3 separate regions of the Homo sapiens genome follow, and all the other regions are linked to region 2. Evidence: fine-mapped expression QTL. A gene starts in region 2. Each other region holds a variant in brackets. All regions are shown on one strand. Distances are from middle to middle. Region 1 overlaps DNTTIP1 (deoxynucleotidyltransferase terminal interacting protein 1). Region 2 holds the start of SNX21 (sorting nexin family member 21). Region 3 has its middle 7.6 kb from the start of ZNF335.

The links. PIP is the estimated chance that this variant, and not a neighbour inherited with it, causes the effect.
Region 1: its variant is the best candidate, but not a certain one, in a credible set for the expression of SNX21 in whole blood (INTERVAL, PIP 0.75).
Region 3: its variant is the best candidate, but not a certain one, in a credible set for the expression of SNX21 in whole blood (INTERVAL, PIP 0.86).

What each region holds. Positions count from the first base shown.
Region 1 is chr20:45,801,860-45,806,081 of GRCh38, reverse strand. It overlaps DNTTIP1 (deoxynucleotidyltransferase terminal interacting protein 1), which reads right to left. Exons shown (of 13, transcript NM_052951.3): 7 at 4,025-4,083; 8 at 2,704-2,749; 9 at 878-936; 10 at 716-776. Among named protein-coding and RNA genes, the nearest start is that of UBE2C, 8.7 kb to the left of the region's middle. The variant C/G (reference allele first, on the strand shown) is at 1,733.
Region 2 is chr20:45,831,875-45,836,096 of GRCh38, reverse strand. SNX21 (sorting nexin family member 21) reads right to left here and starts at 2,298. Exons shown (of 4, transcript NM_033421.4): 1 at 2,157-2,298; 2 at 1,629-1,896; 3 at 981-1,138. The coding sequence starts at 2,177. It also overlaps a transcript of TNNC2 not described here. RefSeq lists silencers at 1,715-1,764, 1,805-1,924, 1,945-2,254.
Region 3 is chr20:45,977,741-45,981,962 of GRCh38, reverse strand. No RefSeq gene overlaps it. Among named protein-coding and RNA genes, the nearest start is that of ZNF335, 7.6 kb to the right of the region's middle. The variant C/T (reference allele first, on the strand shown) is at 1,595.

The DNA of each region.
Region 1 (4,222 bases), 30 kb after region 2:
GCCAGACCCCAGAGTTATTTTAAAATGCAAATATGAGGGCAGTGTGATCTCGGCTCACCACAACCTCCGCCTCCTGGGTTCAAGCGATTCTCCTGCCTCAGCCTCCTGAGTAGCTGGAATTATAGGCATGAGCCACCATGCCAGCTAATTTTGTATTTTTAGTAGAGACAGGGTTTCTCCATGTTGGTCAGGCTGGTCTCGAACTCCCAACTTCAGGTGATCCACCCGCCTTGGCCTCCCAAAGTGCTGGGATTACAGGTGTGAGCTCACGCACCTGGCCCAAACTCTAATTTACAGACAACCAAATATGGTAGTGGTTAAGAGCTCAGGCTTTGGTGAGGACAGACCTGGATTTGAATCCTGACTCACCATTTCTAGCTGAATAACTGTGGGCAAGTCACTCAGCCTTTCTCAACCTCTGATTGTTTCAAATTTGTGAAATAAGGATGGCAATACTTATTTTTTAAGATAATATAAGTGTGGGATTTAAAACTGTGTTTGGCACCCAGTAAGCATGCAAGCAAAGTAGCTGTTATTACTGAGGCACAGAGGTGTTGAGTAAATCATGAAAGGGAAAGGTGAATGGCAGAGGCACAACTAGAACCCAGATGTCCTGACTCCAAGATCAGTGTTTGTTCTAAGCTTCTCTGTGCTGAGTGGAGTTCCCAGTCTACTCCCAATGCAATGGCCTGCTTTCCTCCCAGCAGTCACCTACCTTAAAGAGGTGTGGGTGCTTGATGTAGATTCTTCCTCTGGTGCCCCCCATCCCCAGGGCTCTGAAAAGTAAAAGCCAAGTGGTCAAGATTCCAGAAAGTGTAGTCCTACTAGTGAACTCCTGAGCTGTTTCCTCAATCAGTGCCAAAGCTCTTAAACTTACTTGTTGGCTCGAGATCCCAACACAAAGGTGGTAGATTCATTCAGGCGAGCTGGGTCCCACTGTGCAAAAAATAGAGAAGCTCGTGAGGGTGAAGTTTAATCTGATGGGTAGGACAGAAACACTCCTCCCCCTACCCTTTTCTAACCCTTCCCCTTGTCTATTATTTAATCAACAGTTGACCCAAGACACTGAGTACTCACAATATGCTAGGCCCTGTCTGTGCTAGATACTGGGGATAAAGAGATGAATAAGATACAGTCTCTGTTTTCTAGGATGCCACCAACATATGTACAGATAATTACACCATTGTGCGATGAGGCAAGGACACAAGTGAGTGCAGGGTCTGAGGGCTGCCGAGGGGAGGGTCCAGCCAGGAAGGCTTCCTTAGAGAGGCATTTCCCAAGTTAATTCTGAAAGGGTGAGCACAAGTTGGGGTAAAGGGGGTCAGGAACAAGGGCATTCCAGACAGGGGGCAGCATGAGCAAAGACAGGTGAGAGGCAGCTTGGCCTGCTGGAGAAACTACTAGTAATTCTGTGCTGCTAACAGAGAGAGTACAAATTAGGGAGTGGCAGCTGATGGGGCTGGAGAGAGAAACACAGAGGAGTTGGAGGTCTTAGGAGGTTATGTTCAGGGGACTGCATTTTATTTCTTCTGTAGGCAATGGGGAATCGCTGAAGGCCTCTAAACAGGGAGTGAGAGTCAGATTTCCTTTAAAGATAGCTTAGTCTTCTAGCAATGTGGATAATGGATTTGAAGGGGCAAGACTACAGGCAGGGAGAGCAGTTTAGAGGCCGCTGTGATAAAGCAGTTGGAAAGCTGCTAAGGGCCTGAGCTAGGGCAGCAGTAAGGATGAA[C/G]AGAAGGAAATAGGAACTGCAATATATTTAAGAGGAAGAATTGTCCAGGACTCGACTGGGTGTAGGGAGGTAAGGAAGAGGAGGAGGAGGCAAAGATGATTAAGATAACGAATGTAAAGAAGGGCTGTGAGGAAAGATTCTAATTTCATGTTTGGATATGCTGAGTCTGAAATGCCTATGAAACTTCCAGCAGAGTGGTCAAGCAGATAGTAGGATAAACAAGTTTTAAAGTAGAAAGAGGCATGGGATGGACAAAGAGGTATGGGAGTTTTAGAACATGGTGGTCCCTGAAACCATAAGAGTATATGTTTTAGATTATCCAGAGAGTTACTTTAGATGGAGAAGTGGGCCAAGGAGAGAATTCTGGGGAACAACCATTTATATAAGTCACTGCTGAGGAAGAACTCAGGAGAGAGAGGGAGGCAACAGAGGCTAATGGTTGAGAGCACAGACTCTGGTGTCAGCGGGTCTTGGGTTTGAGACTCAGCTCGATCACTTACGAGTTATGTGACTTTGGGCAAGTCTTAAGTGCATTAAGTGTATAAGACAACTGAATAAAATAATTTATGCCCACAGGGAAGCTGGCAGAAAAGGAAACGCCTCATTTATAGAATGGTTCACAGAATTGATCTCATAAGTTTGTTATAAAGATTAAATGAGATGGTCTACACAAAAGATTTAGGACACTGCCCGTTACATACTAAGTATTGAATCAGTATTAGTGACCACTAACTCCTATAAGGAGAAGGCTTCAGCAAAGACTCAAGCCCTCTCTTTGTTTTGCCTCTAACTCCAATTCCTACACAGGATCCTCTCTGAGGCCAGTGTGGCTGGAGGTGGAGAGGGGCAGATGGCTCTGGAATGGTGTGCATGCACCCTTCGCCCCCTGCCCCTTTCCCTCATGGTGGGTCCTAGAGATAGTGGGACTATCTCCTGGGATCGTGATCTCTGCCATGCTCACATAATCATACCTTGGGGCCTTCCCGGCGAATTGGTTCACAGGATTTTGGTTTCCATCTGCTTGGAAGGAAAGAATAAAGGTGAATTCTCCAAGGTGAGACCTAGGACTAAATGCCAGCTTGCTGGTGGTGGTAGGAGTTCCTCACACACTCTCACTTTAGCCCTGGACATCCTCCTTCGTGGTGACACATAAGAGGAGGAACAAAGGGAAAAAAAGCACTGGACTAGAAGCCATTCTAGCACTAGCTCTGCTCTTACATAGTGGCATGAGCAACTCCAAGAACCTCTGAGTGGCAGTTTTCTCATCTGTCAAAAGAGACAAAAACAGCAACTGCCCTACCTATCTTGTGTTTGTGAGGAATAAAACTGCTTCGTGTAGGAGACACATCTAAGGTATGACAGTTAATACTAGCCCATCTACTAAGCCAGCTGTTCCAAACTAACCCCACGCCCCTGAACCAGACCAGTGTGGCTTTATTTGATTTAAATACTGGGCTCCCATGTAAAGTTTTGTTTGAAAAAGATTCTGCTGCTTCAGAATTTTTTTTAAAAAGTGGGGTTGGGGGTTGGTTGAGGGGGAAGGAAGGATGAACAGGCAGAACACAGAGGATTTTTAGGGCACTGAAAGCACTCAGTGTGATACTAGAATGGTGGATGCCTGTCACTATGCATTTGTCTAAGTTCATGTACAATACCAAGAGTGAACCCTCATGGAAACTATGCACTCTGAGGATCAAGACGAGTCAAAGTAGGCTCATCAAATGTAACAAATGTACCACTCTGGTGCCTGATGTCGATAATGGGGGAGGCTGTGCATGTGTAGGGTCAGGGAGTATACGGGATATGTCTGTACCTTCCTCTCAATTTTGCTGTGAACCTAAAACTGCTCTAAAAAAATTAAGTCTTAAAAAAATATATATTTGAAAATGACCGTCTTGGAGGCAATGTTAACGATATGACATTAGGCAAGTAATTCTCTGAGTCTGTTATCTGAAAAATTAATGATATCTTCTTTACAGGGTGGCTATAAAGATTAAAAGGTAAAGTATGTAACGTATTTAGACCAGTCATAAGCATCCAATATATACTAACAATGACAAACCTCTGGAGTTTAATCTTTCATCAAGCTGGGCCAAACCGTTCAGGGGGTAAAACAATTTCCTCCTCACTACCCTCCTTCCTCACCCCTCCAACCAGGATAACCCCCCTCCACGATGACTTAAGCTGATGGATCTGATTTTGACAGGCACAGAACCCTGGACTCTTTTCCTTCAGGGCCCCTCTCTCCGTCTGCTCCCCTATGCTCTCACCACACTGTTGGTCCCTACTCACACCATGCCGGCGGCTGCCCGGTCGCTTGACAGGATGTGTCCAGGAGGCCGTCCTTTCCTCTGCCACAAAAAACAGCTGTCAGAGGTCTGACCCTGTGGTTACTCCCCATACCCCATTGGCAGGTCCAGGGTCACTTGGCAGAGATGGTTTTCCAAAGAGATCAAATGATGTTTGACAGGGACAGGGAGAAAAACTGCC
Region 2 (4,222 bases):
ATGTGGGACTGGGCTCCAGGCCCCCTCCTGCTGAGTCAGAGGTGGAGAAGGGTGGTGAAGAGGAGGGGAGTGAGAGATGGAGAGCTGCCACTGACAGGAGTGGCCAGCTCAGCTGGCTTTCAGGCCTGGCCTGAAAAGGGACTGGAGCAGGAGTCGCTGTGGGCATTAAAGGAGCAGACCTCATTCTCCAAGTCAGTCTCTCAACAGCAAGGAAAACAGCAAGGGACTCCAAGGTCCTCCCCAACATTGCTCTTCATCCTAACCTCCACCAACCCTCTAAGTCTAGCCCTTAGGGACAAGGTCGGGTGCTTGAGAACTGATTGACCTGTGCGTTATAAGGACACAGCAGGCCCTAGATGACAAACATTTTCAACCCAAAGTTAAATAATGATGACATAGCTACCATTTCATTGACCACGTCATAATGCCAGGCACACTGCTAAGGGCTTTTTGTCCATTGTCTCATTTAACTCCTGCTGTAATCTTCTGCATTTTCCCCATTGCTATAATGAGGAAACGGAAGATGACCAAGGTTAAACAACTCACCCAGAGTCAAACAACTGGAAATAAGTGGGAGTCAAGATTGGTCTGGATCGAAAGCCTATTTCCTTAACTACCAGCCCATGCAACTTGGATCTCAAGTTTGACCCAGATAACATCTGTCTCTCTGTATCTCACATCTTGCTACAATTTGCAAAAACCTTGTGGGCTGGGTGGGGAAGTGCACACACCAGTTCTCTTAGTCTCAAAACCAGGTTAAGAGGAAGGTCCTTAATCCCCACTTCAGTCAGTCTCAAGGAAACTAAGTCTTGTGTGAGGATTTGCTCAAGTTACATCCCCTTTCTGACCTCAGTTTCCCCATTTGTAAACAAGGTAACCATTTATAACTACATAGACCCCTCAGGAAGTTGGGGTCTTCCCTACTTGCTCCTAGCCATACTTCTGGACTCACAGCCCAGGGGTTCTAGACCCTCACTCACCACGTACTTGGAGGGCGGGTCCTTGACAACGTTAGCGCTGGTCACTTCGAAGAGCAGCCGCTGGGGTGCCAAGGTGTTCCGGGACTTCTTCCAGAAATCCTGCAGCTGCCGCGCCAGGAGCTGACTGCCCCACTGCCCATCAGGTGGGGGGCTCCGTTCTGCAGACACATGACCAGTCATATCAATGGGCCTAGGGCCAGGGTCGACATCAACCACTGACGTGGCCTCACTCATCCTCCCAGTGTGAGGCAGGACTTACCCCCTTTTTACAGAAATGGAAACTGAGGGACAGAGAGGCACCGAGGAGCCAAACACCGTGCCTGGCAGACAGTAGGGGCTAAATTAATAGCTCCACCCTCAAAATATCGTTAATACATCATTTCCATTCGGATCCCAAGCCCTGTACATTTAATGCCTGCAGCAATTCTGAGATGAGAGTGAGTTCTCCCACTTGACACAAGGGAAAACTTGGCTCAGAGGGGGGTTAAGACTCTCTCAAGGTCACACAGCCAAGAGGTGGCCCAGGCGCTTTAAGAAGTGTGGGAGTTTCAGCTGGATCAACTTAGCGCCCTGGATGCTCTGGGAACGCGGCTGGGATGGAGGCCTAATCGAGCCCCAGGGTTCCCGCCTCCGTCCTCCTGCACTCGCCTGCGTCTTCTCCTGACGTCCCATCCCCGAGGGGCAGCTGGTCAGGGCCAGCCTCCTCGTCGTCCTCGTCCTCGTCGTCCTCGTCGTCCTCGGCGCTGGTGAAGCTGAGGGTGCCGCTGAGTCGGGAGGACAGGCCCTCGGCGTCGTCGTCCTCCAGCTCTGAGCTCTCCGGAAACTGCTCGGCCTCTGGACTGGCCGCCGCCTCCCCGGGGCCGTCGCCGGCCAAGGCGTGCCGCAGCCGGTGCAGGAGCCGGGAGGCCATGGCACCCTGGGGGGAGCGCGCGACGCTGTGTACCGGATCCCGGAGGAGGGGTACCCCAGCCCGGCGCAGGAGGAGGAGGGGCGGGGCCCGAACCGGAGAGGGAGGGGCGCGGTGAGGCCCCACCCCCTGGCAGTCCGAGGTCTTGCGAACCAGGGGACCCAGCCAGCATCGCTTTCCCCCCAACCCACTCAGCCTAGGACCGCGTTCCTCCCCGGAGGGGCTCAGGACCCTCCCGATGTCTCTTGCGCCGCCTCGTGCGCCTCTACCTCCTGCGTCCCACGGTGCATTCAGGGGCGCGCCGCGCCCCAGGGGTCCGGGTGCAGCCCCCCGCAGCCCATGGAGGTCGGCCGGGTTCTGCAGGGCTCCGCCGGGCTCAGGCCGCTCAGAGCGCCGCTCGGGCAGCTTCCTGCCGCCGCCCCGCCTCCTGCCCCGCCCGCTCGCCCGAGCCGCCCGAGAATCCCGGGCCCTTGGCTCCAGGAGGGACTTGGGAAGCCTGGGTCGGCCTGAGGGAGTCCCAGGCCTGCCGCAGAGTCATCCCAGTCCGGCCAGGCGCGTACCCTCCTTGAATCCTCCCACCCCACCCACGTCATCTCCAATCTGTCCCACTCATTTCCACCCAACGCTCTTTAACTTCACAAAGTAATTATGCAATAGTAGGGAGGCCATGTCTCCCGAGAGAAAACGAAGGGCCAGGAGAAGATGCGTGATTTGGGTTGGTTGGAATCTGACCTCGCTGAGCCTAGGTTTTCTCATATGTAAAACAGGAACAATACTGCTAAAACTAATTTTGCAGCTCTTGTAAGAACGCTCGTCCCGTGCCTGGCATAGAGCAAAGGCTGACGAAATGATCACTTACATAATGATTATTGTTTCTACAGTGTTCACAGGCTTGCACAATCTGATTTGAACCTCACACATGGGAAGTAGGCAAACAGGGAAACTGAGGACCAGAGAGGGTGAGTTACTTGGCTTAACCACACAGCTTGCCAGAGGTTTCTTTCTTTCTTTCTCTCTCTCTCTTTCTTTCTTTCTCTCTCTCTCTTTCTTTCTTTCTTTCTCTTTTGAGATGGAGTCTCACTCTGTCACCTAGGCTGGAGTGCAGTGGCACCATCTCTGCTTACTGCAACCTCCGCCTCCCTGGGCTCAGGTCATCCCTCCCACCTCAGCCTCCCCAGTAGCTAGGAATAGAGGCGTTCGCCACCACACCCAGCTAATTTTTGTATTTTTTGTAGAGATGGGATTTGGCCATGTTGCCCAGGCTGGTCTCGAATTCCTGGGCTCAAGTGATCCACCTGCCTCTGCCTCCCTCAGAGGTTTCTGAGTATGGGGCCTGGAGCCCAGGTCCCCTGCTGCATACTGCCCTTTTCCTGTGCAGCAGGCCTGATAATCTCAGTGGCTCCCCAGCTTTGTTTTATCTTTTATCCGCAGGGCAGCTGCAGGTCAAGAAAAAGTTATTGTGGCTTCCTGTCACAAAGCCTAGGTATCAGTTGTTAGGGCAGATTTTGATAGTTATACAATACAATAAATAAAATCAAAATCTCTCCAAAGTAGCTCCTACCCTTTCTGAGTGGCACAGGAGAGAAGGGTGGGGGAAAATGCCTTGGGATAAGCAGAAGGTATTTCAGCTCCCTGCCCTCCCATGTGAGCAGAAAGGCTGGGGTTCTTATTTTCTGAGGGTCCACTTTCTACATCCTGCTCTAGGCACTTTACTGTCACATCTCTCCCTCACAGCGTCCTGGGGAAGAGGCTGTAACTGGACATTAATGGTCCATTTTCAAGATGAAGAAACTGAGGCAAAGTGACTTCCCCAAGATCCACATCTGGGAAATAGAGGGGCTGGGATTTTAAGCCTAAGTTTGTGCAATTTTATTTATTTATTTATTTATTTTTAGAGAGGGAGACAGAGTCTTGCTCTGTCGCCCAGGCTGGAGTACAGTGATGCAATCTTGGCTCACTGTAACCTCTGCCTCCCAGGTTCAAGCAATTCTCCTGCCTCAGCCTCCTGAGTGGCTGGGACTACAGGCATGTGCCACCATGCGGCTAATTTTTGTATTTTTAGTAGAGGTGGGGTTTCACCATATTGGCCAGGCTGATCTGGAACACCTGGCCTCAAGTGATCCACCTGCCTCTACCTCCCAAAGTGCTGGGATTACAGGCGTGAGCCACTGTGCCTGGCCAGTTTGCACAATTTCAAACCTCGAATTACTCTTCATTTGGCTTATGGGCAAGATATTGGGACAAAAAAGGCATACTTCATTCATTAATTCAACACTCACTCATTCACCAACCATTGGTTAAAAAATAACTTGTCCTTCGGTATATGCCTTACATG
Region 3 (4,222 bases), 150 kb before region 2:
TGGGATTACAGGCGTCCGCCATTATGCCCAGCTAATTTTTGTATTTTTAGTAGAGACGAGGTTTCGCCAGGTTGGCCAGGCTGGTCTTAAACTCTGACCTCAGGTGATCCACCCACCTTGGCCTCCCAAAGTGCTGGGGTTACAGGCATGAGCCACCGCACCCAGCCCATTCAGCCTATTTTCTAAATCCAAGTGTTGTGGCCCTAGGGCATTTCCCCACTACCCCATCCCCCTCCAATACTGAAAGAGAAAGATTTAGGACAAATAGAAGGAAATCTTAATTTACACCGTGGGAAGTCAACTTAAGGGACTCATTATCCCAAGTGGTGGTACAGTCTTAAGCTATAAATAGGTTTTTAAAAACAGGGTTAGCTAAACCCATAGACAGCAGTGACATGAAGAAAGCAGGTAGAGATGAACCCTCGGACCCACCTGCTGGCTGCCTACTCTCAACCCCGCTGCCCTTCCGGGGCATCTGGTGCAACATGAGGAGCACTGGACTGGGAGTCAGTAAGCCAGGGTTTGAATCCTACCTCTGCTGACGATCAAGCACATGACCTCAGACAGTCACTGCTCTGGGGCCTCAGGTTCCTCATCCGTAACATGGGAATGCAGAGAGCATCTAATATCTCTGGCTGTTGTGACTGTAGTTTAAAAATGCACATAGGGCCGGGCAAGGTAGCTCACATCTGTAATCCCAGCACTTTGGGAGGCTGAGGTGGGTGGATCACCTGAGGTCAGGAGACTAGCATGGCCAACACCGCAAAATCCCGTCTCTACTAAAAATACAAATTAGCCGGGCATGGTGGTGCGTGCCTGTAATCCCAGCTACTCGAAGGCTGAGGCAGGAGAATCGCCTGAGCCTGAGAGGCGGAGGCTGCAGTGAGCCGAGACTGCACCACTGCACTCCAGCCTGGGCGACAGAACGAGACTCCATCTTAAAAAAGAAAAAGACCAGCCTGGGCAACATGGTGAAACCCCACCTCTACCAAAAAAATATACAAAACTTTGCCAGGTGTGGTGGTGTGCACCTGTAGTCCCAGCTGCTCAGGAGGCTGAAGTAGGAGGATCACTTGAGCTTGGGAGGACTGGTTGCAGTGAGCCAGGGTCTGCCACTGCACCCCAGCCTGGGCAACAGAGCCAGATCCTGTCTCAAAATAAAAATAAAAATGCATACAAAACACTGAATGCATCCCCTGATACTTGGTAAGTACCCAGTAAACATTCACCCAGCCGGGGTAATATGGGGAAAACCCATCTCTACAAAAAATACAAAACAATTTAGCTGGGTGTAATGGCGCGTACCTGTAGTCCCAGCTGCCTGGGAGGCTGTGGTGGGAGGACTGTTTAAGCCTGGTAGGCAGTGGTTGCAGCGACCCATGTTTGCACCACTGCATTCCAGCCTGGGTAACAGAGTGAGACCCTGTCTCAAAGAAAAAACAAAAAAGCCAAAAACAAACAAACAAACAAACAAACAATCTGCTAGTGGCCGGGCGCAGTGGCTCGCTCCTGTAATCCTAGCACTTTGGGAGGCCGAGGTGGGCGGATCACGAGGTCAGGAGTTCGAGACCAGCCTGACCAACATGGTGAAACC[C/T]CGTCTCTACTAAAAATTCAAAAAAATTAGCTGGGCGTGGTGGCGCGTGCCTGTAATCCCAGCTACTTGGGAGGCTGAGGCAGGAGAATCACTTAAACCCGGGAGGCGGAGGTTGCAGTGAGCCGAGTTTACGCCACTGCACTCCAACCTGGGCGACAGAGCGATGCTCTGTCTCAAAAAAATAAATAAATTAATTAAAAACTGCTAGTGTGATTATTATCTACTGCAGGAGATCTGGCCTGGGCTCACAGCCCCTTCCATTACACCAGAAAATTTCTGTGATCTTGAGCAAGTCAAATCCCCTCTCTGGGCTTCAATTTCCTCATCTGTAAAATGGGAAAATAGTAACCACCAGGCCTGACTCAGGAGAAGACAAAATATCACCTAAGAGTCAAGCATTATGATGAGAAATGGTACAGCAATCTAAAAGTATGGAGTCTAGAGCCAGATTGCTTAGTTTTCTTTTTTTTAAATAAATGAAAAAATTTTTATTGAGTATTACTTTATACATGTAAATTAAAAGTGAATCTATATTAAGTTGACTATTCTACAATAAAAACCTATGCAATGGGAATAATCAAAGCTGTCTACACAATACTAATGTGGTCAATAAATTACCCAGATGTTTTTCCACAAATATTTGGATTACCTGAATTAGCTGATTTTTCCACAAAAGTTAAATTTGAGCTTTAATATGGTAGCAGCAGGATGCTGCTTAAGTTTAGAAGAAAAACATAAGAATAAAAACCCTGAATAGCATAACCAAATCTTCCAAGAAATAAGTTCACCAAAAAAGTAGCATACACCTATTTGGTATCCAGAGGAGGAAACAAAACAAAACACAGGCACTTAATCAACATCCACCAAGTGATCATCACTAACATTCTATTATTACCAGAGCAACTGTCAATACGTGAACCGTAGATTAGGACAGACTTACATATCTAAAAACAAACCAGTAATCAATAATATATACAGAAATACTAACTTGCAGTCACATTTAAATACCATCAACAGTTTGGTGTATCTGATATAGACTGAATTCATTTCATCACTGCTATAAATTCCTTAAAAGTGTTCTTTTCCTAATGTAACATTATCTTTAAAAAATGGTAAGATATTTCCCAATATGCATCAGTTCTTTCACTCACCCATTCAATAAATGTTGCAGCAAATTAAATAGAACCTATTAACTAGATCTAAAAACAATGGCTGAATAATTAACACAAAGAAGTACTTTTGAGTAAACTATTCAGATTAGACAGGCTAATGCTAACTAAGACTGCATTTTGTGCTACTGACATGCACTATATAGATCGTACACTACTAGATGGAAGGTTGGTCCACGTCCATTTATTTAAAGATTCTGTAACACCTATAATAGTATTTAATACAGCTCCCACACATAATATTCCTCTCACATAGACATAGTTATTTTTAGTGGGGATAAGGTATGACTTTAACATGCTATGAGATTCTAGCTAAGTAAAATAAAAACAATATGGGCTCAGGTTTTCTTAGGTAATATTAGTTCAAGTTTTTAAACTGGGAAACAACCAACTTCCATATATCCAGGAGAAACTTAGCATGGGGGGAGGTGCCTTAGTTGATGTGCCTGATAAGCAAACTGTTAGTCGTCTATTAGTATTATGTTTTCAGCTTAATGTAACAACAAAAGAAAGGTGTCACACTACTTCTCAGATAATATGGGAATTACAATTACAGATAATATGGGATTACAATTACAATCCCATGGGATATCCTTTATTTATGAAAGCATAGTTCCAATGCAAAAGTCAAGCTTTATGGTTACATATTAGGATAGGTTCAGACCCAATATGACCATGTTTAGCACTAACTTTAACATGTTAAAGTTCTGATTCCTGAATGTTTTTCTCACTTAATATATTATCTCCAATGACAAGCTGGTGTGTCTGGCTTCTTATGCTGAAAATATATGCCTGAATCCTGTAACAAGTTATTAACAAAATCATGAATAGTTATTAAATAAGTGCCAGCACTACATGGAACTTACTGGTCACCAACTCAGAACGATAAAACTACACACATATGCACACAAAAAAACCCCAAAGAAACATACCTATCACTGTACATATGAATACTGTCCAGGATATCAGATCAATTATCAAATCCAAGGTCTCTGCTGTTTTGTCTTACAGTGTTGAATATATGAATGCTTCTCTATTACACTGACTTGTATTATTTTCAAGAAATTATTAAGTGGATTCAAAATCTTACATTTTTATTTCTAATTATAAAATCCAGATTAATCCAGAAAACACAAACCACATGTAACTGAGGTAGGTTTTTCACCTTAAGGATACATTGCTTCTACCACAATTTAAAATTTTTAAAATTGAAGAAAAAAAAAAGACTACATTGCTCCCTATACCTGCCTCTGATACTTAATTTTCTACGTTTGAAACTACTTGAACAAGTGTGACAGTGCTCTACTATATTTAGTAAATCCCTTAGTACCTACAAATACACACCCAAAATCCCTTCCCCCCTTCTCTAATGGTCACTGTTGTATAAAAAAATTGCCAACAACTCTAGAAAGATGAAATAAAGATTACTATAGCAATCTTCAGTTAATTCATTTCAGAA